7 linked regions of the Homo sapiens genome follow. The protein of the gene in region 1 purifies or fractionates together with the protein of each later gene. This does not show direct contact. Each region holds a gene or a part of one and is shown on either strand. Other genes may lie near its edges.

Region 1 (3,500 bases):
TTATTGTCTTTCAAGTAGCAGCAATAGCTGTATTTACGGCAGAAGGGGCAAAATGCTTCCTAGATACTAATGCTCAGATTCAGTGCTGGAATATGGGGAGCTGGAAAATGAGTTAACATTGCCGGCTCTGGATGGAAACAGATTATGAGGTGCCATATATTGGTGTATGGCCCTCTTAGCTGTGTAGAAAAGCCATGAGTTATTGCCGAAATTAATGCCTTGCCAGTGAGATGATGGTCATTCACAGAGCTAAACCCAGAACTTTCCAGTTTGTTTCTGCCCTGAGAAAACTGGCTCTGTGTTATTTTATGCCTCTCACCAACCCAAATAACAGAAATTTTTCGATGCTCTTCCCCTGGAATTAATGTGAAAATGGTGAAGAAGAGAAAACTGGCAGACAGTGCTGAGACACTCCTACTGCATTGCACATTTTGGTTGTAGTGATAGGAGCGAGGGCCCCTCTGGCAGGCAGGCAAGCAGGAGCAAGCGACAGATCTTGTGTGAGCCCGGCATTGCTCTGAGCCCAGGGTTTACCCTCAGAGGCTTTCTTTGGAACTGACAACACATTCCGTAGAGCACAAGTTCCAACTCCCTCCTCCACGCTTCACGTTACTGTTTGCAAACTCCACATATTCCAAAGTCTTGTTTTGTGTAAACAGCTAGGGAAAAAACACAGAAGCACTCGGCTTCCATCCTCATGTCAGGCAGCAGTCCTTGTCTACACAGGCTTCATCCTTCCCTGCTCTAGTGGGGAGTAGGACAGAGGGCCCCCACGGCCCTTTCCAGATACAGTGATTCCAGGTTCAGTGATTCCAATGGTGGCTGAGATTGCATACACGGGAAAGCTGCCCTAAAAAGAAAGTTACTCATTAAATCGGATTACTCCAATGCTGCCCCCTTCACTAAGGAACCCCAGCCTCCAATTTCTCCCATGCTCAAGGCCCCTATCCATTGCCCTCCCACATGTACCCTGACACAAATAGCACTACTCTCAGTTTCTCTTCCCGAGGTTAAGTTGAAGTCTGCCCTCTTCCTTTCATCATGTTCTCCTCTGTCCCCTAGTCTGTCCTTGCAACTCATGGCTAAAGTGAGGTACATATGGCAGGTACAGGAGCTGCCCAGCCATTGATGCAAAATGGGTTAAACTGATCCTGAACATGCTAGGGTTGGCTTCTCTGTCTTCAGTATGACTTGAGAAGTCCCAGAGCAGAAGGTATGCCAATGAAAATGGAGCAGGCCTTGCTAAGAGAGCTTGCAGGGACACTGGTATGGACGCTCTCTGTGACTGGACAGAGGTGATGCTGAGCCTGGACTGGAGCCCAAACCTAGGCTCCAACTGGGCCCAGGGTGGGCCAGCCCAGTAGCTCTCTGGTTCTGCTGCTTTCCACACTTAGGGGTTCTATTGTTCCAAGACATAGAAGAACAGTGGCTGCATCCCTGGTGGCTTTGATCTTGCTGCCTGCAGGCAGGGGCGGAGGGTGTGGGGAAGGCAGGATGAGACTTCTGTGTGGGTGTGTGGGGGCACAGGATGAGTCTCCAGTGGGGGCATGAGACCAACGTGGGGCAGGGCTGGATGGGCTGTTCTTGGTGTGAACTGTGCTACAGTGTGGCCTTGGCCTGCTCTCTCCTCCCATCTCTCCTCCCTTAGCCTCTCAGTCTCACCCCACAAATCTCCCTCCCTGCTGGCACTGCAAATGAAATGCATGGAGGAGGTGGCATCAGCAGCAGCATCTAAATGGCCAAGAGCAGCCTTAGATCTGAGGACTTGGGACCCCCAGGCTTCACTGACAAGTAAAGTACACAAGAGACCAGGCCACATAAGCTGCAGCCCTGCCCTCTTCTGCTAAATGCCTTCACCTTCATTGCCATTTCCATACCTAGGGAAGAGCCCTGGGGGTTATCATGCTTCCTTCGTGCTGTGCCCTTTCTCCACATTCATTTCTTCATCCATCCAACAAATAGCTTTCTTACATAAACTGTGAGGGACAAAAGTTGTTGAGAAGACAGTCCCTGGCATCCAGGGATTTGGTGTCTGATGAAAGAGATAGACATGTAAACAATTGCTGCAAGGAGATAAGAGCCCTGCTACAAGCCTGCTGGAGGTACCGTGGGAATGCGGGAGGGGAGGGGAGGGGCCGGGCTCTGCCTGTGGGGGTGGGAAAGACGAAACAGCAACACAATTCCAGTCACATCTCGGGTGCCCAGAAGCGGCTGCAGGCGTGAAGACAGAGGAGGGTGTAAATGTCACACAGGTGAGGGAGGGGGAACGGAGCTGTGCTGGTGCCTATCATCGTGGAACAAGCTCTCTTATGGCTTCCCCTGTAACTCCACCTCTACTCCCACCACGCCACCATCCCTGGTCCTGGCTGTGAGCTGTATTTAGAAAGGCCCTGTATTTCCAGGCTGTGGGCAGTCATTTGGGGTCGTTTTGGGTTTGTGTTCCTAGCAGCAGGATGTCTGGATCACAAAAGCAGTGATCCCACTAAAACCTCTCTGGCCTGCATCCATGGAAGATGTGTTCACTGCTGGCCATCTGTTTGAGTGGGGCACTGAACAAAAGGCTATGTATAAAGTTATTCCTCCCAGAATTACCTATGATAGCAAAAATTGGAAGCAATCAAAATGTTCAAAAATAGATAAATGGAAGACTGGCTCAATAACTTAGAGTATACTGTTATGATGTAACATCATGCAACCCTCTAAGAACTGGGCTAAATAATTTTGAGTGATATAGGAAGTAGGATAAAGAATTAGTATAAGCTCCAGTATGTTAAATGTATACTCCCTCTCTCTATGTATATTTGTGGGTATATATATATTTGCATAGAAAAAAGACAGGAAGGTGCCAGGCACGGTGGCTCACACCTATAATCCCAGAACTTTGGGAGGCCAAGGTGGGCAGGACTCACTTGAGGTCAGGATTCAAGAGCAGCCTGGCCAACATGGTGAAACCCCATATCTACTAAAAATAGAAAAATTAGCCAGGTGTGGTGGCACATGCCTGTAGTCCCAGCTTCTCCGCAGGCTGAGACAGGAGAATTGCCTGAACCCGGGAGGCAGAGGTTTCAGTGAGCCGAGATTGCACCACTGCACTCCAGCCTGGGTGACAGAGCAAGACTGTCTCAAAAAAAAAATTAAAATAAATAAATAAGAAAAAAAGATAGGAAGAAAATACGCCAAAATGTGAAGTGTGGTTATGAGCAAATTTAATTTGTTTTTACATTTTTATGTATTTTCCAAAGATTTGATAATGAGTATGTTTTACTTGTATAATGAGTCAAAACAAAAATGGGGATGGTGTTCATTTTTGTGTTTTAAATGTGGATTGAGCATCTAGAGAAAAGTGACAAGGATGGTGAGATGTTAGACATTGTGTCATTAGACTATCTGAAGGAGGACACGGCAGTTTTCCTTTTTAAAAAACTCCATTAGTTATGGTTCAAAGGAAGTCCCATGGCTAGTGGAGAAGTCTGGTTCTGGGTTTATTGAGCACAAAACTG
Region 2 (3,500 bases), on another chromosome or scaffold:
AAGGCCTTGCCGCTTGGCACCTTAGTTTCTAACACTGAGAGCTGTTTATTTTTAAACTTGGCCATGTAGCAGGTCAGATAAGACTAGCTGGCAACACCTGGCAGTCTTTCTGAGTTTACATTTTAAGGGAATAATTACAGGTGTTGTATGGCAGAGGTTTCACCCCCTTCTGTCCCCACCGAAAAGCTCAGAAGATTCTGTAGCTTTATTAGTGCCACTGTTGTGTGGACAGGGGCCATGCTTAGAACACACTTCCCAGCAGGGAAGGGGAACTTGACTGATTACAGCCTTTCCGGCACAGAAGCAGAGCAGTGTGGGTTTCTCAAGGTGTGTTTTGGGGCAGGCTTTCCTGTGCTGACCAGCTGTCCTCAGCCCCAGCTGTCCTCAGCCAATCAGGGGAGCCAGGTCCCAAGCAAGCCAGGTCTAGTCCAGCTGCCTGTCCTTTCCCGTGATGCTGACATGGGTTGTTTGTGTGGGCTTAGCACAGTCCTTAGGGCAGGGTATGTGCCCAGGCTGTGGAGCAGGCACGTGGCAGAGGAGGGGCCTAGGATAGGTCAGCTCCCTTGGTCGGTGGCAGTGTCGTCATTTCGTTTCCACCTGCTGCAGCCCCTCTCCCAGGATCAAGCTGTCAGTCAGAGCTTGAGGTTTACAGAGCACCCTTACCACCCTCACCTTGTGGGTCTGGCTGTAACGTTGTGGACAGGACAGGAATGTGCTCATTTTGTAGACACGAAGGCACAGAGAGGTCCAACTTCCGGGGCTGTTCTCTGTTGTCTCCAAGCCCCAGAGTCACGTGTCCCCCTCTGGGTTCTCACAGCCTGCCCTCCCCTCAGCCCACCTCTGTCATGACTCAGCGCACTTGGTCACTGTCCCTGTGACCACCTTGAAGACCAGCCATGGATCTTCTCGATTTCTGCCCCGGCTCCGTTGTGGCTCTCCCTCCCTCCAGCCTCACGCCACCCCACCCTACCCCCTGAATAGAAATGCCAGCCTGGATTAGGGCTTCCTTCCTGAGCCTCGGGGACTGAGAACAGTGAGTAGGGAGAGGCGACTCAGCCCCTCCTGCCATACTGGTCCAGAGCAGGCTCCTGCTTCCTCCTCTCCTTCCTCCTGCAGGATGGGCTTCCATTCTGCTGAGGGGACAGTCCTCATTCCACAGTGTTCTCAAGCTTGTGCTCAGAGCCAGGCTCTTTCTGGGAGTGAATGAACACAGTCCTGCAGAGGAAGGCAGTGCAGGGCTAGCCAGGGGCCAAGCAGGGCTGATAGGAGCCATGCCAGGAGAAGCGTTGGCATGGTGTGGGTGGGTGCCCAACACCTGGGAGAAGCATCTGCTCACTTCAGAAGGTCCCCCCTTCTCTGGCCACCTTTAAGTAAATTAAGACTTCTAAGATGTGGAAATTTGAGTTTTTATAGAGTTCAGTGGCTTTAAATAAAGGAAAGGCATGGCCGGGCGCGGTGGCTCACGCCTGTAATCCCTGCACTTTGGGAGGCCGAGGCGAATGGATCACCTGAGGTCAGGAGTTCGAGATCAGCCAGCCTGGCCAACATGGTGAAACCCCGTCTCTACTAAAAATACAAAAATTTAGCCAGGCGTGGTGGCGGGCACCTGTAATCCCAGCTACTCGGGAGGCTGAGGCAGGAGAATCTCTTGAACCTGGGAGACAGAGTTTGCAGTGAGCCAAGATCACGTCTCTGCACTCCAGCCGGGACAATAAGAGCGAAACTCCATCCCAAAAATAAAAATAAAGGAAAGGCATGTAATCCCCCAATTTTCCTAACACGAGGGGCAGAGCAAATTCAGCTTTGGGAACTGAAAAAGGCACAGAGTCCCTGAGAGAAAAATATCTGAAACCCTGAAAGGAAACCCTCTGTGGTCTAAATGGCCACATTGAACAGCCGAGGTGTGAGCAGAGCAGACCCCACCATGGCCGGCGCTGAGTGACCCGCAGCTTCTCTCCCCTGCACAGGGCCCCAGTACGGGACCGTGGAGAAGGCCTGGATGGCCTTCATGTCCGAGGCAGAGAGGGTGAGCGAGCTGCACCTCGAGGTGAAGGCCTCACTGATGAACGATGACTTCGAGAAGATCAAGAACTGGCAGAAGGAAGCCTTTCACAAGCAGATGATGGGCGGCTTCAAGGAGACCAAGGAAGCTGAGGACGGCTTTCGGAAGGCACAGAAGCCCTGGGCCAAGAAGCTGAAAGAGGTACATCTGTCCTGCAGGCTTCCCTGCCCGGCCTTGCTCTGCCTGGCACCCCACTAGCAGCACCACCTCCTGCACCTAGGACTTCCTGCCACTGGCTGTAGGCACAGGAGGCCAGACCTGGTAGAGATGAAGCCACTCCTCAGGCTAGAAGCCCATGGTAGTTGACATTTACCCAGGTTGAAGATGCTGAATGCTCTATGTGCATTCTTTAAATTTTTTATTTTTATTTTTTGAGACAAAGTCTCACTCTCTCTCCCAGGCTGGAGTGCAGTGGTGCAATCTCAGCTCACTGCAACCTGTGCCTCCTGGGTTCAAGCAATTCTGCCTCAGCCCTCCGAGTAGCTGGGACTACCGGCACATGCCACCACACCCTGCTAATTTTTGTATTTTTAGTAGAGACGGGGTTTCACCATGTTGGCCAGGCTGGTCTCGAACTCTTGACCTCAGGTGATCCACCCACCTTGGCCTCCCAAAGTGCTGGAATTACAGGGCATTCTTTAAATTTGATCCTACCAACACATTTTACAGATTTGGTAACTGAGGATCAGAACCATACATTGGTGGTAGAGCTCAAAGCCCAAGCTCTTAACCACTAACAGTACTTCTCCCAACCCTGGGGAAGTGTCTGCTGGAGACTTAAAAGTCCTTGCCGGGCGCGGTGGCTCACGCCTGTAATCCCAGCACTTTGGGAGGCTGAGGCAGGCGGATCACGAGGTCAGGAGATTGAGACCATCCTGGCCAACATGATGAAACCCCATCTCTACTAAAAGTACAAAAATTAGCAGGGCGTGGTGGCGGGCACCTGTAGTTCCAGCTACTCAGGAGGCTGAGGGAGGAGAATCACTTGAACCCAGGAGGTGGAAGTTGCAGTGAGCTGAGATCACGCCACTGCACTCCAGCCTGGTGACAGAGGGAGACTCTGTCTCAAAAAAAAAAAAAAAAGTCCCTTTGGCTGCTCTGCGTGTGCAGTAGCCTTTCTTTATTCCTTTACTTTCTCAATAAACTTGCTTTCACTTTATTTTTTTTTCAAGTCCCTTTGACGATAGAAAGAACTAGTTTACATTTTTCTTTCTCTTGCATAGGTTTTTATCCCAAAATTTCAAACATTGATACCTGTTTTTCTAAAAGTAGCAACCAAAGCCATTGAGTTTTGTCGAGCCTTGGCTAGTTGGAGGCTGTCATCTGTCCACCCCAGCCCTCAGCTTGTGTGCCCCGCCCCTGCCTGCAGCCTCGCCCCCCATTCCTAGCTGGAATGGAGTAGACGGTAGATGTGCCACCCCCAACACCCAGATGTTCT
Region 3 (3,500 bases), on another chromosome or scaffold:
CTTACACTGCGGATATGTGGCACATCATCATCACAGTCAAGATTCCTCAGCCCAAAAATCTGCAGGCTTCCTCTGATTTCACAAGTTACTGCCCCTTGACACTATGTGCACACACAAAGTGAGAACCCTGGCACTGCTACTTTGGTTAAGTTTTAAGACAGCCAGTAAAACCATTCTTAATTCCATTCATTTAATCTCCTAATAAAATGTGGTATATATTTTCTTGTGGGGAGTAGGTAAGCGGAAGAATAATCAACCAACTATCTAAGTGTTTGTAGACAAATTAAGTGGCTACATCACATGCAGAGTTATACATGCCCGTGTGCATATGTGTGTATTTATTAAGCACCTAAAATGTTTCAAGCACTATTCTAGCACCAATGACCAACACACAGATAAGGTCTCTAATTCTCGCAGCTTACTTTCTGGGGCTCTGGAAGTGGCGTCAGGCAGCAGGGGGTGGGTATTGGAAACAATGAATATGTAAAAAAAAAAAAAAAAAAAAAAAAAAAAAAAAGACAAGCAAAATCTGAAAAGGCAGCATCAAGTACTATGAAGAAAATGAACCTGGTGATAGGAGAAAGTGTGTATCTAAGTATATGCCTTTTTATTATGTTTAAGCTCTAAGAAACCTAAAGTATATTTAGTAGCTTATTTTAGTTCCTTATTTTAATTTTACAGACTGGAAGCCGAGAAACAGAGGTCACCAGGGAATGGGTAGGTCAAGCCAGGACTACTGTATAAAATAGTACAGTCCTGCTCACTACACAACTCCAGTAACGCAGGGACACTGAATACAATGGGAATGAACCCCCTGGGCTGCCCAATACAGTGGAATCAGCAGTAGAAAAGTTCGATCCTTTTGGCTCTTACTCTGTGCTGGCTACTGTACACATAGTAAGTACCTCACTTAATAGAACCCAAGTCTCCTGATTCCTACTCGGGTGCTTTTCCTACTACACATCTCGCTGTAAGGGAGGGAAGGAGGGAGAGAGGGTAAAAATCACCTGCTTTTTGATTCACAGATACAATCAGGTAAGTCTTAGCTTCCAGTTGAGAATCACCAGGTAGTCCCAATATGTGCTCTGTTTCATTATCCCAGGGTCACAGGATGCACAGTTACTCCAGCTTTACGAGATACCTGGCAGCCCTGTCACCCCAAATTCTCCACTTCTGGTCAGAGGTTCAGTGACTTGTTTAAGCTCACAAGGCAGTAAGAGTTAGGCCAAAACCCTTGGTTTCTGATTCCAACTGCACATTCTTTAATCTCAGGCAGGTGATTGGTGGGTGAGCAAAGGAAAAGACAAAAAGAGTAGATACTTAAAAAAGAAAAAAAAGAAAGAAAGAAAAGGGAGAAAATATCAAGGATGGCTGTTTAGGGAGAAGCTTGAAACCCTTTCTTAAATTTGCAAATCACCATCAGGCCAACCTACCCACATAATACATAGTAATTACAGCAATTAACACTTACCAACTGCTTACTGTGTGCTAAGCACTTTATCCTCACAACAGCTTTGAGGCAGGTACTATTATTATCCCCCTTTTACAGATGAGGAAACAGGCATGGAGAAGAAAATATTCTTGAAGGGTATGTGCTCTAGCAAGCAGCCAAGCCAGGATTCAAATGCAGAAGTCTGGCTCTAGAGGCCAAGCTCATTACCTGTACATCATGTGGCCTTCCTGAAAGCCAAGTTCATAAAATCTTGGACACTGAGGTGACCATTTGGGCCACACCTGAGAGCATGTGACATCTATGAAATGGCTGTGTGGTCTCTGTCCCAGGCACAGGAATCACTTGAGACAAAGAAGCACCTCAGCAGAAGTGGGTAAAGCTACGGAGACTCAACTGCAGCCTTTCTCTCCAGGACTGGAAAACATGCCAAGGAAGCTTGGTTGGCTGCCACCCAGGCTGGTCCCTGCAGGTAAGGACCTCTTTGGCATCACAGCCAATAAAACCCATACCTCCTGTGGACACGAAGTGGGTGCCACTTAGGGATCCTGAGAGCCACCCCCAAAGCAGCATTCCCAGAAATGACCCACTCACCACTGGCAGGAATTGAAGGTGTCATGAAAGCTGTTAGCCTCAGAGGATGTGGTTCTGGGAAGAACTAAAAAGGTGGTTCAACTCCCTACTGGCTAAGGCCTGGGGCCTCCTGGATAGAGGAGTAACTGGGGGAGAAACCTGCTGTCCTGGTAGCTAGTCCTCATTTTCCACATCTCCAGGTTCTAACTAAACTAAACCCAAAGTGCGGGATCTGGCTGTGCATAAAGGTCTGGAGTTTCAACTGGCTGTGCATTTAATCAATAATCTTCTGGTAATAACTGAATCCAGGGGAATTTTAACACTTCATCAACTTATTGAGATGAGGAATTTCATCTGGCCTTGATTGTTATGGTGGCATTTTTGCTTTTCATTAAACACTTCAGAAGTCTGGTACTCGTGACATAAAGCCATGTAACTTCATGCTGCGCCTTTCCCTCCTTTTCTGAGAATCTGAGCTTCTCAAGCCTTCCCAGAAAGAGAGGCAGATTTACTCCAAAAGGATACATTGATTCTTGCATCTAGACCTCAGAAACAAGGTACTGGAAATATTTCCTAAGATCCACCAAAGCCAAACACCTGCTTCAGGTCTGATGTGGCTTTCAAATGTAAGACCCCCTACTGGTGGTGATGCAGCTGCATTTTTCAGATAAGAACGAGGCCCCAGGATCTTAAGATTCAAACGGTCCATGAGCCCAACTCTGGAGGAAAAGGGATGGTCTAGAGACCTGCACCATCATCAGACAACTGAAATGTTTTCTTAAGAGGGGAAGGAACATATCACAGGGAAAGGAATTAACATGGGTTGCACAGTTAGTAAGTACCAGTCATTACAGTAGCGCTTTTATATACTCTGGCACTCGTCCATGTAAGTGGGTATTATTACCCCCATATTTATAGATGAGAAGGCTGAGTCTTTTTGAACACAGAGCTAAGTAATAATTAGTGGAGAGAGGATCTGTGCCGGCATTTGTTTGATACCAAAGTCCCTGCTCTTCCTGCCCCACACTGTTTGGTGCTCAGCTCCTCTCTCCATCTCTATTCCAAACTACCCCCCAACCAAGTGAATGTGGCCTGCTGTGGCCTCAACTGTAATGAAGCATCTAGAGAGGAACAGTGGACCACTTGGAGAAAACTGATATTACCAGAGGCAATCAGACTACAACAGAATGCTGGAAGGGCTCCCTTTTAAAACGCATGGAAAACCCACTATTCTCCAAGTTCTCTGTAAGGTGGTGAATTCCAAACATTACGTCATTTAATCCTAAAGCCATACCTAAGTTAGGTGTTAAGATTTCTGTTTTATCGAGAAGGAAACAAGGCTCTGGGAATAATTCATTCTGGGAGCCAAAAGGAGACCCATTGTTTTCAGTAACTGGAGCCTGTAAATAGAGGGACTGGGGTTAAGGTTAGAGGCTGAGGAAAGATCAGGGTAAAGGAAAAATGACATCTAATTATG
Region 4 (2,664 bases), on another chromosome or scaffold:
CTACACTGTTAACTGATTGAGACTCCACTGTGATTCACTTGTTTACTTAAAAACTTTTCAGGGATGTCTGTAAATTTCAGTGTTAATATGTCATGAAAAGTGGTGTGGATTGATCTAAGGAGGGACCAGAAATAATTTTTGCTATTCCAAATACTGAAGGAAAAAGATAATTGATTTATACTATGTTTTAAAAAAAAAAAAGGTATTGATGAGCCCCCCCCCCCCAGGACATTTAACCTTAAAATTTATTTTAAATGTATTCTTTTATTATTATAAGGGAAATACAGATGGCTGATAAATACCAAAAAGATTCAAAAGCAGCTTAATTTAAAAAGCACAAAGAGATTCTGGCTTACAGTGCCCCAATCTCAATGTTTTTATAGTTGCTGAGCTAACTAATGTGATTATTGAGTTTACAGATTTAAAAATTGTCACTGTTAGAGTATCTACTGTTTTTATGAAGTCAAACTTATGCTGCCTCAGAAATCCCTGGGTACTGAAATGGTAACATGGAAGTGAAGAGGTCACTTTGAAATATTGGTGAGTCACAAAGATTAAAGAAAAGGATCAGTTTGCAGATACTCAGAAAAGGTTATTGAAATAATTACTGAACAGCACATTTTCTCTCTAAAAAGTAGTTTCATATGGGTTGTATTTTTAAGATCAGATTATCATTTTGATATTTGGTCAAAATTTTGTACCTTAGGTTACTTAGAGCCAGATTTAACATCATGAACATTATGTGGCTTTGTCTTTACTACAGATATGTGGAACTGTAACCAAATATGTTGTCTCTAAAACTTGTTGATTGCAAAATACAGTTCTATAAACAAAACCCATATGTATATATAAATGTTAATTTTGCGGAAGTCTGGAAATTATAACTATAGCATTTAAGTTTGAGTCTGTATTGGACAAATAAGCACCATGCTTTTCAAATGATTTAAAAATTACTTTTATTTGCCTCTTTATTTTGATGGTGGTTGGATTTTTTTTTTTTTAATAGTAAAATCACTAAACTTGTGCAATGGTAGCATGGAAATTATCTGAGGTATATTGTATGATTGTACTTTAGCCAGGGTGGACATAGCTTAAATTATAAAAACTAAAGATGAAAGTACAAGGAAGTATAAGTTATACTTATGTAAGTATAAATTCATGCTGCCTACTTCTAAGAGAAATTTCATTCTTCATAACCACATAACATTATAATGCCACTGATTCATACGGGATTTACATTAATTCTATGGGGGAGGACACTAGAATTATTAGTGTTCATTTTCATCTAAGATCTTTATTCTCTAACGTTCTTGGTCCTATTGAAACATTGCAGTATGCAAAACTACTGCAATGTTAAACCCAAGAGAAAAGCCATTATCATGTGTATGCTGGTCATCATGATCAGTGTGGTACAATTTTTAAAAATAAACTATCATGCCCTTCATGCCATTATTTGTCTTTATTTCTATGATTTATAATCCTGATATGTGATGTGTTTGTAACACAGGGTGTGCACTTGAGCCTGGTTTTACTGTTTTTATTAGACAGAGTTGTTTATATGCTGTAACTGTAACGCAGCGAGACTGGTTCTACAGCCATGTGTCGTAATCTTGTTCCCCGTCCAAGCTGTTGTATCTGAAGGTACCCAGTTTGCACCCAGGATGAGGGAACGCATTCAAAAGTGAAATGTAAAGCCAGTGCACGAATATTATAGTAATTGAGATTTTCCCAGGCTTCACTGATACAGTTGTTTTGCATTTATTCACAATAATACAGCAGATTCTTAAATGCCGATTTTTAATTGTCTTAAATTTTGCTGCTGTTCTCATAATTAAGGACTTGAAAAATGTTTTAGTCTGTCAAGTATGTAAAGTTTGTGTAAAAACTTTTAAATGTCATTCTTAAGTTCATTGCCATAGCCATTTTCCATTTATGTCTTCATTTTCCAAAAATCAAATGCCATGTCTGATACCTTTAAGTCCATAAGCATTCAATTTTCTCATTTCCACCTTCATCTTTGGTTAACAGAATAAGTAAAACAGGGTATTATTTATTTGTAGTCTAGAAATGTTGAATATTGTTTTATTTCCTTCAAAATGTTATGATTAGTGCAGATCAGCCATGTTTATCTTTTTAAAAAATAAACAGGTTGCTTTATTTCTTAGCTTCAATGGAATATAATTATTTTTTCTCCACTCATCAAGGAGGCATTTATTTAATGTGAAGAATTACACAGAAAAATAGAAGAGCATGTTCTGTCTTGAGCTTCATCTGCAGTTACCATAGAAATTATTCATCAAACACTGTAGCTAATTTGATTAATTTAAAACCATCATCATTCAGATAGTCCCATGGAGTATCTGCTTCCATTAGTGACATCAGGAATTAAGCACATAGCAGTAAGTTGTGAGTGAGAGGTTTTGAAATAATAGCTCCCATGAGTCCAATACCTGAGACAGAAGCAGGTGCTTAAGTAAAGTACTTGACATACTGTCTGTTGGTTGCCATAAATAGGCGAACTCCAACACACATAAGCCAAAATATAATAGCTACGGGACCTGGCATATCTTGCAAGGGGCCAAAGTCCCATTTGGCAAAGCTTGCCCTCTTTGTGGGGCTTTGTAGTCTTGTATCTGCTTATCTTTACAGATTTGTTTTACATAT
Region 5 (3,500 bases), on another chromosome or scaffold:
TTAATCTGGAGTCAGTGATTAAGAAATATTTTATATCTTTCAACACTAGTATGTATTTGGCTGTATCACAGATTCAAAATACTACTTTTAATGAATGGGCTTTACTGTTAAGTTATATCTGAATGATTACTATTTTGAGATCACATTGGATGTAAAATTTTAGATAAATATGTGCTTTTTTTAAATAGCCTGGATCTAAAAAATCAGCAAATGGATCAGATGATAAAGCCAGCTGCAAGGAATCAAAGACAGGAAATCTGGACCCGTTATCTTGCATAAGTAAGCTTCCCTCATCTGTGCTCGAGATAAATTTGCGAACTTTTAATCTCAACAAAGCTCCCCACTCCTTTTGGTTTAAACACAGATTCGCCTATTTTTAGTCATGTTAAAATGTATGTTTTTATTAAATATAGGCACTGCAGATCTTCATAAAATGTATCCTACACCACCATCATTGGAACAACATATTATGGGATTTTCCCCAATGAATATGAATAATAAAGAATATGGTAGTATGGATACAACACCTGGAGGAACTGTTCTAGAAGGAAATAGTTCTAGTATAGGAGCGCAGTTCAAAATTGAGGTTGATGAGGGATTCTGTAGCCCCAAACCTTCTGAAATTAAAGTAAGTATGTTTTTTCTAGAAAAATAATTCACTTCCTATATTTTCTTATAGAATTAATTTGTTGCTATAGTCAAAAATTATTTTATAGTGGTTGCGGTTTTGTAGCTAAGTTGAGGACTGAATTATTGTTGTCACTATTAAGAATGCATTTAAGAAAATAATAGAATTGTATTTAGATTTTATTCTGTTTAAAGAAAGGAAAAAAGGTCCAGAGCCTGTTTGTTTATTTATTTTTTCCTCCTAGAAGATAAGATACTGAAAACCTACCATCTTTATATTGTAGGATTTTTCTTATGTCTATAAGCCTGAAAATTGTCAAATTCTAGTGGGATGTTCCATGTTTGCACCTCTAAAAACTCTACCAAGCCAATATCTGCCCCCTATCAAATTGCCAGAAGAGTGTATTTACCGTCAGAGTTGGACTGTTGGAAAATTGGAATTGCTTTCTTCAGGGCCTTCAATGCCATTCATCAAAGAGGGGTATGATTTATGTTGTTACAATAGTATGTGACTGCTTATACAGCTTTAATTTTTTTTTCATAGATTTACCTGGTATGCTGGAAAAATAAAATTGGTTTTTGAAAATTCTAAAAATTATTTCTGGTTAATCAATTATAGTGATTGGCTGGGAGCAGTGAATCACGCCTGTAATTCCCATACTTTGGGAGGCCAAGGCAGGCGTATCCCTTGAGGTCAGGAGTTTGAGATCAGCCTGGCCAACATACGAAACCTCGTCTCTACTAAAAATACAAAAATTAGCCAAGCGTGGTGGCGCATGCTTGTAGTCCCAGCTACTTGGGAGGCTGAGGCACAAGAATGGCTTGAACCTGGGAGTCAGGCATTGCAGGGAGCCGAGATCGCACCAGTGCACTCCAGCCTGGGCAAGAGTGAGACTTTGTCTCAAAAAAAAAAAAAAAAAGGTTAATTGGGTATGGATAAACTATTAGGAAACTTAAGACTATTATGCTTGATTTGTATTCCGAAGCACCTTTTCTTTTGGGCTGCAATTTTAAATTGCTCCCATTTTTACATTTGCCATCTTTTCCACACTTTTCACATTTTAACATCTCTGACTTGGTCAGTTTCAACTCAAGGCTAAAAGAAATCTGAATCTGAGATGTCTTATAAGTGGTAGCATTTTAAAATTACCATTTTTCCCTTTTTACACATGAGCATCTCTAAAATCATTTTTCTTTTTTTATAGTCAGTAGCATCTTAGAATCAAGGAAATATAAGTATTTCTAGTAAACAAAATTTATAGATAGTAAATATGGATGTCTAGGTATGCATTAGTGTATAGAGTGCTTATTAATGATTTTTGAACTTGTTAATTGATCCTTAGTCAACAACAATCACTTAGAGTAGATATGTTAACCAGAAATAAGAATTGACTGTGCTTGTAATTCTTGCAATACTTGTCCTTTCATAATTTTCTATGTAATTGAAAAACATTTGGGACGTTTTTAGTTGTATTTCACATTACTAATATGTTCCTTTATATATATATTTGATCTTCTTTTACCCTGGTGATGATAGTGATGGAAGTAATATGGATCAAGAATATGGCACTGCTTATACACCTCAAACTCATACTTCTTTTGGGATGCCTCCTAGCAGTGCACCTCCTAGTAACAGCGGAGCAGGAATTCTTCCTTCTCCATCCACCCCTCGGTTTCCAACTCCAAGGACTCCAAGGACTCCTCGGACTCCTCGTGGAGCTGGTGGACCTGCTAGTGCTCAAGGTTCAGTCAAATATGAAAATTCAGACTTGTATTCACCAGCTTCTACCCCATCTACATGCAGACCCCTTAATTCTGTTGAACCTGCAACTGTCCCTTCCATCCCTGAAGCACACAGTCTTTATGTAAACCTCATCCTTTCAGAATCAGTTATGAATTTGTTTAAAGACTGTAACTTTGATAGTTGTTGCATCTGTGTTTGCAACATGAACATCAAGGGTGCCGATGTTGGAGTTTACATTCCAGATCCAACGCAGGAAGCACAATATAGGTGTACCTGTGGCTTCAGTGCTGTCATGAACAGAAAATTTGGAAACAATTCAGGATTATTTCTTGAAGATGAACTAGATATCATAGGACGCAATACAGACTGTGGCAAAGAAGCAGAAAAACGTTTTGAAGCTCTCAGGGCTACCTCTGCTGAACATGTTAATGGAGGACTAAAGGAATCTGAAAAATTATCTGATGATTTGATATTATTGCTACAAGATCAGTGCACTAATTTATTTTCACCCTTTGGAGCAGCAGACCAAGATCCTTTTCCTAAAAGTGGTGTAATTAGCAATTGGGTACGTGTTGAAGAGCGTGACTGTTGCAATGACTGCTACCTTGCATTAGAACATGGGCGTCAGTTCATGGATAACATGTCAGGAGGAAAAGTTGATGAAGCACTTGTGAAAAGTTCATGCTTACACCCCTGGTCCAAAAGAAACGGTAAAGTATGCCAATAAAATACTTTTTTGTTTGCTTATTTCCCTTTAGTTACATTCTTAGGAAAAAGTAATAAAGGCAGTTTCCCATGTGGCAAATACATTTAAAGTTGGACTTAAAACTCTTTATGGATGATGTTTTTAAAGGGAGAATTTCTTAGCAGTTTAGTTTAATTTCACCAATAAAAGTATGGTTATTATAAATCTGTAATTATATACTTATGTAGGAATATGAAAGGCACATTCCATATATTTATTAGCATAACATTGCTAGTGGTCTGCTTTATTCAACATTCTTTCACTCATTAAGTATTTACTGGGCACCTTGTATGTGCCAGGTATTAGCCTAGATTCACTGTTGAACAAAGCACACATATTCTTTGCCCTTTTTGAATCTATAATTTAGTGGAGAAAATAGGAAAT
Region 6 (4,004 bases), on another chromosome or scaffold:
CTCACTGCAACCTCTGCCTCTTAGGTTCAAGCGATTCTCCTGCCTCAGCCTCCCAAATAGCTAGGATTACAGGCGCCTGCCACCATACCTGGCTAATTTTTGTATTTTTAGTAGAGACGGGGTTTCACCATGTTGGTCAGGCTGGTCTCTAACTCCTGACCTTAAGTGATCCACTCACCAAGGCCTCTCAGAGTGTTGGGATTACAGGCGTAAGCCACTGTGCCCGGCCTAGCCCCTTCTTTCTCTCTCTCTCTCTCTCTCTCTCTCTCTCTCTCTATATATATATATATATATATATATATATTTTTTTTTTTTTTTTTTTTTTTTTTTTTTTGAGACGGAGTCTCGCTCTTGTCGCCCAGGCTGGAGTGCAGTGGCACAATCTTGGCTCACTGCAACCTCTACTACCCGGATTCAAGTGATTCTCCTGCCTCAGCCTCCCGAGTAGCTGGGGTTACAGGCGCCTGCCACCGGGATTACAGGGCCCTGCCACCGTGCCCAGTGAATTTTTTGTATTTTTAGTAGAGACGGGCTTTCACCATCTTGGCCAGGCTGGTCTTGAACTCCTGACCTTGTGATCCACCTGCCTCAGCCTCCCAAAGTGCTGGGATTACAGGTGTGAGCCACCGTGCCCGGCCTTTTCTTTCAACATTTAACAAATAAGTTGGCTTTTTTGGAAGTATGTTGTTGTCATTTAGTGACACATCTCTAAATATTTACAATTTTTGTTGAAATGTTAGGCAGGGAAGAAGAACCACATTGTTCCACAGGGAAGAAGAACCACAGAGTTTCATGTGCTGGAGTAGAAAGAAGGTGTATGAGTTCCACAATGGGACAGGGTTGGGAACTTAAGGCAATGTACTGGAGTAGTTCCCTGTTGGGTTTATTTTCTTTAACCTGTCTTTGTGTCAAAATGAGATTTCACGTTCCTCTTAAAACATGCCGTTTGAATACTGTGTTTTTGGCATTGTCCAAGGAAAACTGAAAACTTGTAGCATGAATGTTTTTTTTTTCACTTAAAATCTTGTGACCATATTAAATTGTATTACTTGTAAGAGACTGACGTTTCCTGTTTTAAGATAGAATACAAAGCTGTTCTTTAATACATTAAATGGTGCTGACGAAAGGAAATTTTTTTAAAAAGCAAATAGTTTGGCGGCTCCGCCCTTGAAAGGGATCAGCTGAACGCGAGTCATGTGACCCTCTGGCACCTCTTCCGTCGGCTGAATTGCGGCCGTATGCGCGGCTCTGTGGAGTGCACCTGGGGTTGGGGGCACTGTGCCCCCAGCCCCCTGCTCCTTTGGACTCTACTTCTGTTTGCAGCCCCATTTGGCCTGCTGGGGGAGAAGACCCGCCAGGTGAGGGCCCTGGGGCTACAGCGATAGAAGTTTCAGGAAACGCTACCCTTGCAGGGTGGCTGGAACCGGGCATCCAGGGGCTAGGGGTGGAGGGTGGCTGCCAAGAGGAGGGTTCTTCAACCTGGAGGGTGTGGGAGATGGTCATGGGTCATGGGACGGGATTGTGGAGTAGGGCAAATGTGAGGGTGATGTCTGGACCCCGACTCAGCCCTGGGTGACCCAGGTCCAGGCAAGTGTTGAATGTTTTCTTCTTCGCAGCCCTGTGCCCTGACCCGCCCACCAGGGTCAGGGGAGTCCTGGCTGTACCCTCTACCCTACCCCTTTTCATCCTGTCCCCACTGCCCCTTACCCCAGGGTTCCCTCAGCTCCCGCACACATTCCTCTTGTCTAGTCCCCAAAATCCCATCCTTTGTCCAGCACTTTCCAAGCCCCCCTCCCCTCAAGCTTCTCTTTTGCCTGTGTCTCTCCTTGGTCCTGTTCCCTCAACCCTCCACTACTCCATGTTCCAGGTGTCTCTGGAGGTCATCCCTAACTGGCTGGGCCCCCTGCAGAACCTGCTTCATATACGGGCAGTGGGCACCAATTCCACACTGCACTATGTGTGGAGCAGCCTGGGGCCTCTGGCAGTGGTAATGGTGGCCACCAACACCCCCCACAGCACCCTGAGCGTCAACTGGAGCCTCCTGCTATCCCCTGAGCCCGATGGGGGCCTGATGGTGCTCCCTAAGGACAGCATTCAGTTTTCTTCTGCCCTTGTTTTTACCAGGGTGAGGAGGTTGGGAGAGAACCAAGGAGAAGAGTGCAGAGGAGAGAGTTCATCCCAATTAGAGGGTGGAACTAAAGACTGGGGGTGGGTGAAATAGACTCAGATATGAAAGCCTTGGTAGGGGGTGAGTGGGAGGTGTGGTCTCGGGAGAAAAACTGAGGCAAGCCCAGTTCCACCCTACCCCCACCCTCCAGCTGCTTGAGTTTGACAGCACCAACGTGTCCGATACGGCAGCAAAGCCTTTGGGAAGACCATATCCTCCATACTCCTTGGCCGATTTCTCTTGGAACAACATCACTGATTCATTGGATCCTGCCACCCTGAGTGCCACATTTCAAGGCCACCCCATGAACGACCCTACCAGGACTTTTGCCAATGGCAGCCTGGCCTTCAGGGTAAGGCGTGAGAAATCGGAAAGAGCTCAAAAAGGCTGATTTGTGAGGGTGGGATTTAATGATGGAGGTGGCCCTTAAGCACAGGCATCCAGCTATTTCCCACACCTCCCATGCTTCTTCCTTCCTAGGTCCAGGCCTTTTCCAGGTCCAGCCGACCAGCCCAACCCCCTCGCCTCCTGCACACAGCAGACACCTGTCAGCTAGAGGTGGCCCTGATTGGAGCCTCTCCCCGGGGAAACCGTTCCCTGTTTGGGCTGGAGGTAGCCACATTGGGCCAGGGCCCTGACTGCCCCTCAATGCAGGAGCAGCACTCCATCGACGATGAATATGCACCGGCCGTCTTCCAGGTCAGGCTTCCTGGAGAGAGGCAGATGGGTGAGGAATGTAGGTGGGACACCATTGGGACCTAAAACTCATTCAACCATTTGCCATTTAGCAACACTTTCTTTGGGTCGTTTAAGAGCTAGGCACTGTGCTAATGAATCTGACCCAGTCTCTGCCCTCAGTGGAGACAGACAGAAAGTGCAATATGACTTACACTCTGGCAGATGGAGATCTGCAAGGGGGCTAGGGGCCAAGAGGAGGGCTGAGTCCAGACTTGGAGGTTTGGAAAACAACTCAGTCCTCACCCAGTCGAACTCCCCATTTTTACAGAGGAGGGATTGAGGCCCTGCCTAGGACTCAGGACTCCTGCTGCTAGTCACAGAATAAGGCTGGGAGTGGCAAGGAAAAGAGGGTCGGGCACAGGTTGGTCCTCTTTACCCTCCCTTGTTTGCCTTTCTTCCCAGTTGGACCAGCTACTGTGGGGCTCCCTCCCATCAGGCTTTGCACAGTGGCGACCAGTGGCTTACTCCCAGAAGCCGGGGGGCCGAGAATCAGCCCTGCCCTGCCAAGCTTCCCCTCTTCATCCTGCCTTAGCATACTCTCTTCCCCAGTCACCCATTGTCCGAGCCTTCTTTGGGTCCCAGAATAACTTCTGTGCCTTCAATCTGACGTTCGGGGCTTCCACAGGCCCTGGCTATTGGGACCAACACTACCTCAGCTGGTGAGAGCCAGGGTTTGGGCCGGGGACTTGGGGAGTTGAAGTGGACAAAGGCTGAGCCTCCCAGCCTTTCCTCCTAAGCCCGCTTACCTCTCTCTCTCTGCTTGCTCTAGGTCGATGCTCCTGGGTGTGGGCTTCCCTCCAGTGGACGGCTTGTCCCCACTAGTCCTGGGCATCATGGCAGTGGCCCTGGGTGCCCCAGGGCTCATGCTGCTAGGGGGCGGCTTGGTTCTGCTGCTGCACCACAAGAAGTACTCAGAGTACCAGTCCATAAATTAAGGCCCGCTCTCTGGAGGGAAGGACATTACTGAACCTGTCTTGCTGTGCCTCGAAACTCTGGAGGTTGGAGCATCAAGTTCCAGCCGGCCCCTTCACTCCCCCATCTTGCTTTTCTGTGGAACCTCAGAGGCCAGCCTCGACTTCCTGGAGACCCCCAGGTGGGG
Region 7 (3,500 bases), on another chromosome or scaffold:
CTCATCACAGAAAAGATGAAAAGAGAAAAGAGAAACGTAGGCATCGTAGCCATTCAGCAGAAGGGGGTACAGAAGCATTTACTTTCTTTGACATCATGTTCAAGTGTGGTTTCTTTCCTGTTCCTACTCTTCTGCCTTCCCCAGAGCACCACTGAAAAACCAGAGAAAGCAAACTCTAGCTGAAAGCATACGTGTGTCACAGACCGTTCAGAATGGCTATAGAGAGAATACTCTAGCTAAAAGCATGCGTGCGTCACAGACCGAAAACCAGAGAGAGCAAACTCTAGCTGAAAGCATGCGTGTGTCACAGACCGAAAACCAGAAAGAGCAAACTCTAGCTGAAAGCGTGCGTGTGTCACAGACCATTCAGAATGGCTATAGAGAGAATAGCTGAAAGCATGCATGTGTCACAGACCGTTCAGAAGGGCTATGAGAGCAAACTAACTAAAAGCATGCGTGTGTCACAGACCAAAAACCAGAGAGAGCAAACTCTAGCTGAAAGCACGCGTGTGTCACAGACCATTCAGAAGGGCTATACAGAGCAAACTCTAGCTAAAAGCATGTGTGTGTCACAGACTAAAAACCAGAGAGAGCAAACTCTAGCTGAAAGCATGCATGTGTCACAGACCATTCAGAAGGGCTATACAGAGCAAACTCTAGCTAAAAGCATGCGTGTGTCACAGACCAAAAACCAGAGAGAGCAAACTCTAGCTGAAAGCGTGCGTGTGTTACAGACCATTCAGAAGGGCTATAGAGAGAATACTCTATCTGAAAGCATGCGTGTGTCACAGACCATTCAGAGGGGCTATAGAGAGCAAACTCCAGCTGAAAGCATGCGTGTGTCACAGACCGTTCAGAAGGGCTATACAGAGCAAACTCTAGCTAAAAGCATGCATGTGTCCCAGACCGAAAACCAGAGAGAGCAAACTCCAGCTGAAAGCATGCGTGTGTCACAGACCATTCAGAAGGGCTATAGAGAGAGTACTCTAGCTGAAAGCGTGCATGTGTCACAGACCATTCAGAGGGGCTATAGAGTACTCTAGCTGAAAGCATGCGTGTGTCACAGACCGTTCAGAGGGGCTACAGAGAGCAAACTCCAGCTGAAAGCATGCGTGTATCACAGACCGAAAACCAGAGAGAGCAAACTCTAGCTGAAAGCGTGCGTGTGTCACAGACCATTCAGAATGGCTAGTCCATTTTTCCTCTGGGGTTTTCTCTCCCCCATTATATTGTTTGGAAGCAGTTTGTTTACATTTAAAATGACCTGAATTCAACAAGTATAGGAGAAAAACACACCCCAAAATGGGTATTTGCTCAAGTCCAAAGAATGGGTTTGGCTTGAGCAGTTTGATCTCGTACCAACATCAGGAGGTTCTTACGGGTGTTAGGAAAATTGGACCTGGAGCCCGATTGAAATGTCATGATTATAAATACACTTGATTAATTAATGTGGCTTCATTGCACAGTGGAGAAGCCCACTGATAGCAAAGCTTTGTTCTGTAGTCTTTGTGAAGAGTGATTTTTGTATTATAAAACTGATAATTATAGTTTATTCAGTATGGAAAAGTTTTAAAAGACGAATATTACAATTCTGCTCTTCTGTGATAGCAGAATTGTTTTTCTTTTTTCTTCTTTCTTCATAATTAGACGCTTACTGCAGATAGTTTTTTATTTTCAAAGTTTTTTATTTAACATAAAATCATGATTATTCGGCTGGGTGCAGTGGCCCAGGCCTGTAATCCCAGCACTTTGGAGGATCAATTGAGTCCGGGAGTTCAAGACCAGCCTGGCCAATATAGCGAGACCCTGTCTCTTTAAAAAAAAAAAAAAAAAAAAAAAAGGCCGGGCGCGGTGGCTCACAACTGTAATCCCCACACTTTGGGAGGCCGAGGCCGGCAGATCACGAGGTCAGAACATCAAGACCATCCTGGCTAACATGGTGGAACCCCGTCTCTACTAAAAAGACAAAAAATTAGCCGGGCGTGGTGGCAGGCGCCTGTAGTACCAGCTACTCGGGAGGCTGAGGCAGGAGAATGGTGTGAACACGGGAGGCGGAGCTTGCAGTGAGCCGAGATTGCGCCACTGCACTCCAGCCTGGGCGACAGAGCAAGACTCCATCTCCAAAAAAAAAAAAGAAAAAAAAGAAAAATTAGGATTACTTAACGTTAACATCATTATTTAAATATTTATTTAAATATTTACTGTTCTTGATTTAATTTCTTTTTTTTTTTTTTTTGGGACGGAGTCTTGCTTGTCACCCAGGCTGGAGTACAGTGGCGCAATCTCAGCTCACTGCAAATTCCATCTCCTGGGTTCACGCTATTCTCCCGCCTCAGCCTCCCGAGTAGCTGGGACTACAGGTGCCCGCCACCACACCCAGCTAATTTTTTGTATTTTTAGTAGAGATGGGGTTTCACCGTGTTAGCCAGGATGGTCCCGATCTGACCTTGTGATCCGCCCACCTCGGCCTCCCAGAGTGCTGGAATTACAGGCGTGAGCCACCGCGCCCGGTCTTAATTTCAGTTTCACGTGGGTTTTTTTTTTTTTTTTGCCCAGGCTGTAGTGCAGTGGCGTGATCTCGGCTCACTGCAACCTCCGCCTCCCGGGTTCAAGCAATTCTTCTGCCTCAGCCTCGCTTAGTAGCTGGGATTACAGGTGCCTGCCACCACGCCCAGCTAATTTTTGTATTTTTAGTAGAGACGGGGTTTCACCATGTTGGCCAGGATGGCCTTGAACTCCTGACCTCAGGTGATCCGCCCGCCTCAGCCTCCCAAAGTGCTAGGATTACAGGCATAAGCCTCCGTGCCCGGCTTCATGTGAAATTTTTGAAGTGAGGTTTCTTTGCATGACACTTTATTTCTCATTAGGGAAGCATGCTAGAGTGAAAGAAAAAGAAAGAGAGCACGAACGTCGGAAACGGCATCGAGAAGAACAGGATAAAGCTCGCCGGGAATGGGAAAGACAGAAGAGAAGGGAGATGGCAAGGGAGCATTCCAGGAGAGAAAGGTGAGTCGGCTGGGTCAGTTGAGGACTTTATAAAAGGGCTGTGGTAGTGTGTCCCATCCTAGAAATGAAGAAGAATTTGGCAATAGAAGTCACATCTGAGCCAGGTGTGGTGGCTCACGCCTGTAATCCCAGCACTTTGGGAGGCCGAGGTGGGCGGATCATGAGGTGAGGAGATGGAGACCATCCTGGCTGACATGGTGAAACCCCGTCTCTACTAAAAAAATACAAAAAATTAGCTGGGCATGGTGGCGGGCACCTGTAGTCCCAGCTACTTGGGAGGCTGAGGCAGGAGAATGGCGTGAACCCGGAAGGTGGAGCTTGCATTGAGCTGAGATCCCGCCACTGCACTCCAGCCTGGGCGACAGAGCGAGACTCCGTCTCAAAAAAAAAAGAAGAAGTCACATTTGGTGCAGAAGTGGTAGACATGGAAACAGCACAGTGAACGCTGGACGAGGCTGACCAAGAGAACTGTCCTGAGGGAGTGAGTTTTCACT

Evidence for each region.
Region 2: the proteins of VDR (region 1) and PACSIN2 purify together in Homo sapiens (affinity purification with mass spectrometry; one large-scale study listed by BioGRID and IntAct). This does not show direct contact.
Region 3: the proteins of VDR (region 1) and LEF1 purify together in Homo sapiens (co-immunoprecipitation; one study listed by IntAct). This does not show direct contact.
Region 4: the proteins of VDR (region 1) and SNX18 purify together in Homo sapiens (affinity purification with mass spectrometry; one large-scale study listed by BioGRID and IntAct). This does not show direct contact.
Region 5: the proteins of VDR (region 1) and MED13 purify together in Homo sapiens (affinity purification with mass spectrometry, with the first as the bait; 2 studies listed by BioGRID). This does not show direct contact.
Region 6: the proteins of VDR (region 1) and GLMP purify together in Homo sapiens (affinity purification with mass spectrometry; one large-scale study listed by BioGRID and IntAct). This does not show direct contact.
Region 7: the proteins of VDR (region 1) and CDK11B purify together in Homo sapiens (affinity purification with western blotting; one study listed by BioGRID). This does not show direct contact.

What each region holds. Positions count from the first base shown.
Region 1 is NC_000012.12:47,849,495-47,852,994, reverse strand, and holds part of VDR (vitamin D3 receptor), read left to right. Parts: intron 1-3,500.
Region 2 is NC_000022.11:42,889,650-42,893,149, reverse strand, and holds part of PACSIN2 (protein kinase C and casein kinase substrate in neurons protein 2), read left to right. Parts: intron 1-1,967; coding exon 1,968-2,203; intron 2,204-3,500.
Region 3 is NC_000004.12:108,092,433-108,095,932, forward strand, and holds part of LEF1 (lymphoid enhancer-binding factor 1), read right to left. Parts: intron 1-3,500. UniProt on the Homo sapiens protein: Transcription factor that binds DNA in a sequence-specific manner. Participates in the Wnt signaling pathway. Activates transcription of target genes in the presence of CTNNB1 and EP300.
Region 4 is NC_000005.10:54,544,423-54,547,086, forward strand, and holds the end of SNX18 (sorting nexin-18), read left to right. Parts: 3' UTR 1-2,164; downstream 2,165-2,664.
Region 5 is NC_000017.11:61,981,779-61,985,278, reverse strand, and holds part of MED13 (mediator of RNA polymerase II transcription subunit 13), read left to right. Parts: intron 1-188; coding exon 189-279; intron 280-413; coding exon 414-628; intron 629-911; coding exon 912-1,108; intron 1,109-2,164; coding exon 2,165-3,081; intron 3,082-3,500. UniProt on the Homo sapiens protein: Component of the Mediator complex, a coactivator involved in the regulated transcription of nearly all RNA polymerase II-dependent genes.
Region 6 is NC_000001.11:156,292,880-156,296,883, reverse strand, and holds the start of GLMP (glycosylated lysosomal membrane protein isoform 1 precursor), read left to right. Parts: upstream 1-1,204; 5' UTR 1,205-1,238; coding exon 1,239-1,358; exon of another isoform or gene 1,359-1,587; intron 1,588-1,867; coding exon 1,868-2,125; exon of another isoform or gene 2,126-2,208; intron 2,209-2,318; coding exon 2,319-2,519; intron 2,520-2,647; coding exon 2,648-2,866; intron 2,867-3,173; exon of another isoform or gene 3,174-3,266; intron 3,267-3,307; coding exon 3,308-3,564; intron 3,565-3,674; coding exon 3,675-3,840; coding exon of another isoform or gene 3,841-3,872; 3' UTR 3,873-4,004. UniProt on the Homo sapiens protein: Required to protect lysosomal transporter MFSD1 from lysosomal proteolysis and for MFSD1 lysosomal localization.
Region 7 is NC_000001.11:1,649,005-1,652,504, reverse strand, and holds part of CDK11B (cyclin-dependent kinase 11B), read left to right. Parts: coding exon 1-66; intron 67-2,867; coding exon 2,868-3,006; intron 3,007-3,500. UniProt on the Homo sapiens protein: Plays multiple roles in cell cycle progression, cytokinesis and apoptosis. Involved in pre-mRNA splicing in a kinase activity-dependent manner. Isoform 7 may act as a negative regulator of normal cell cycle progression.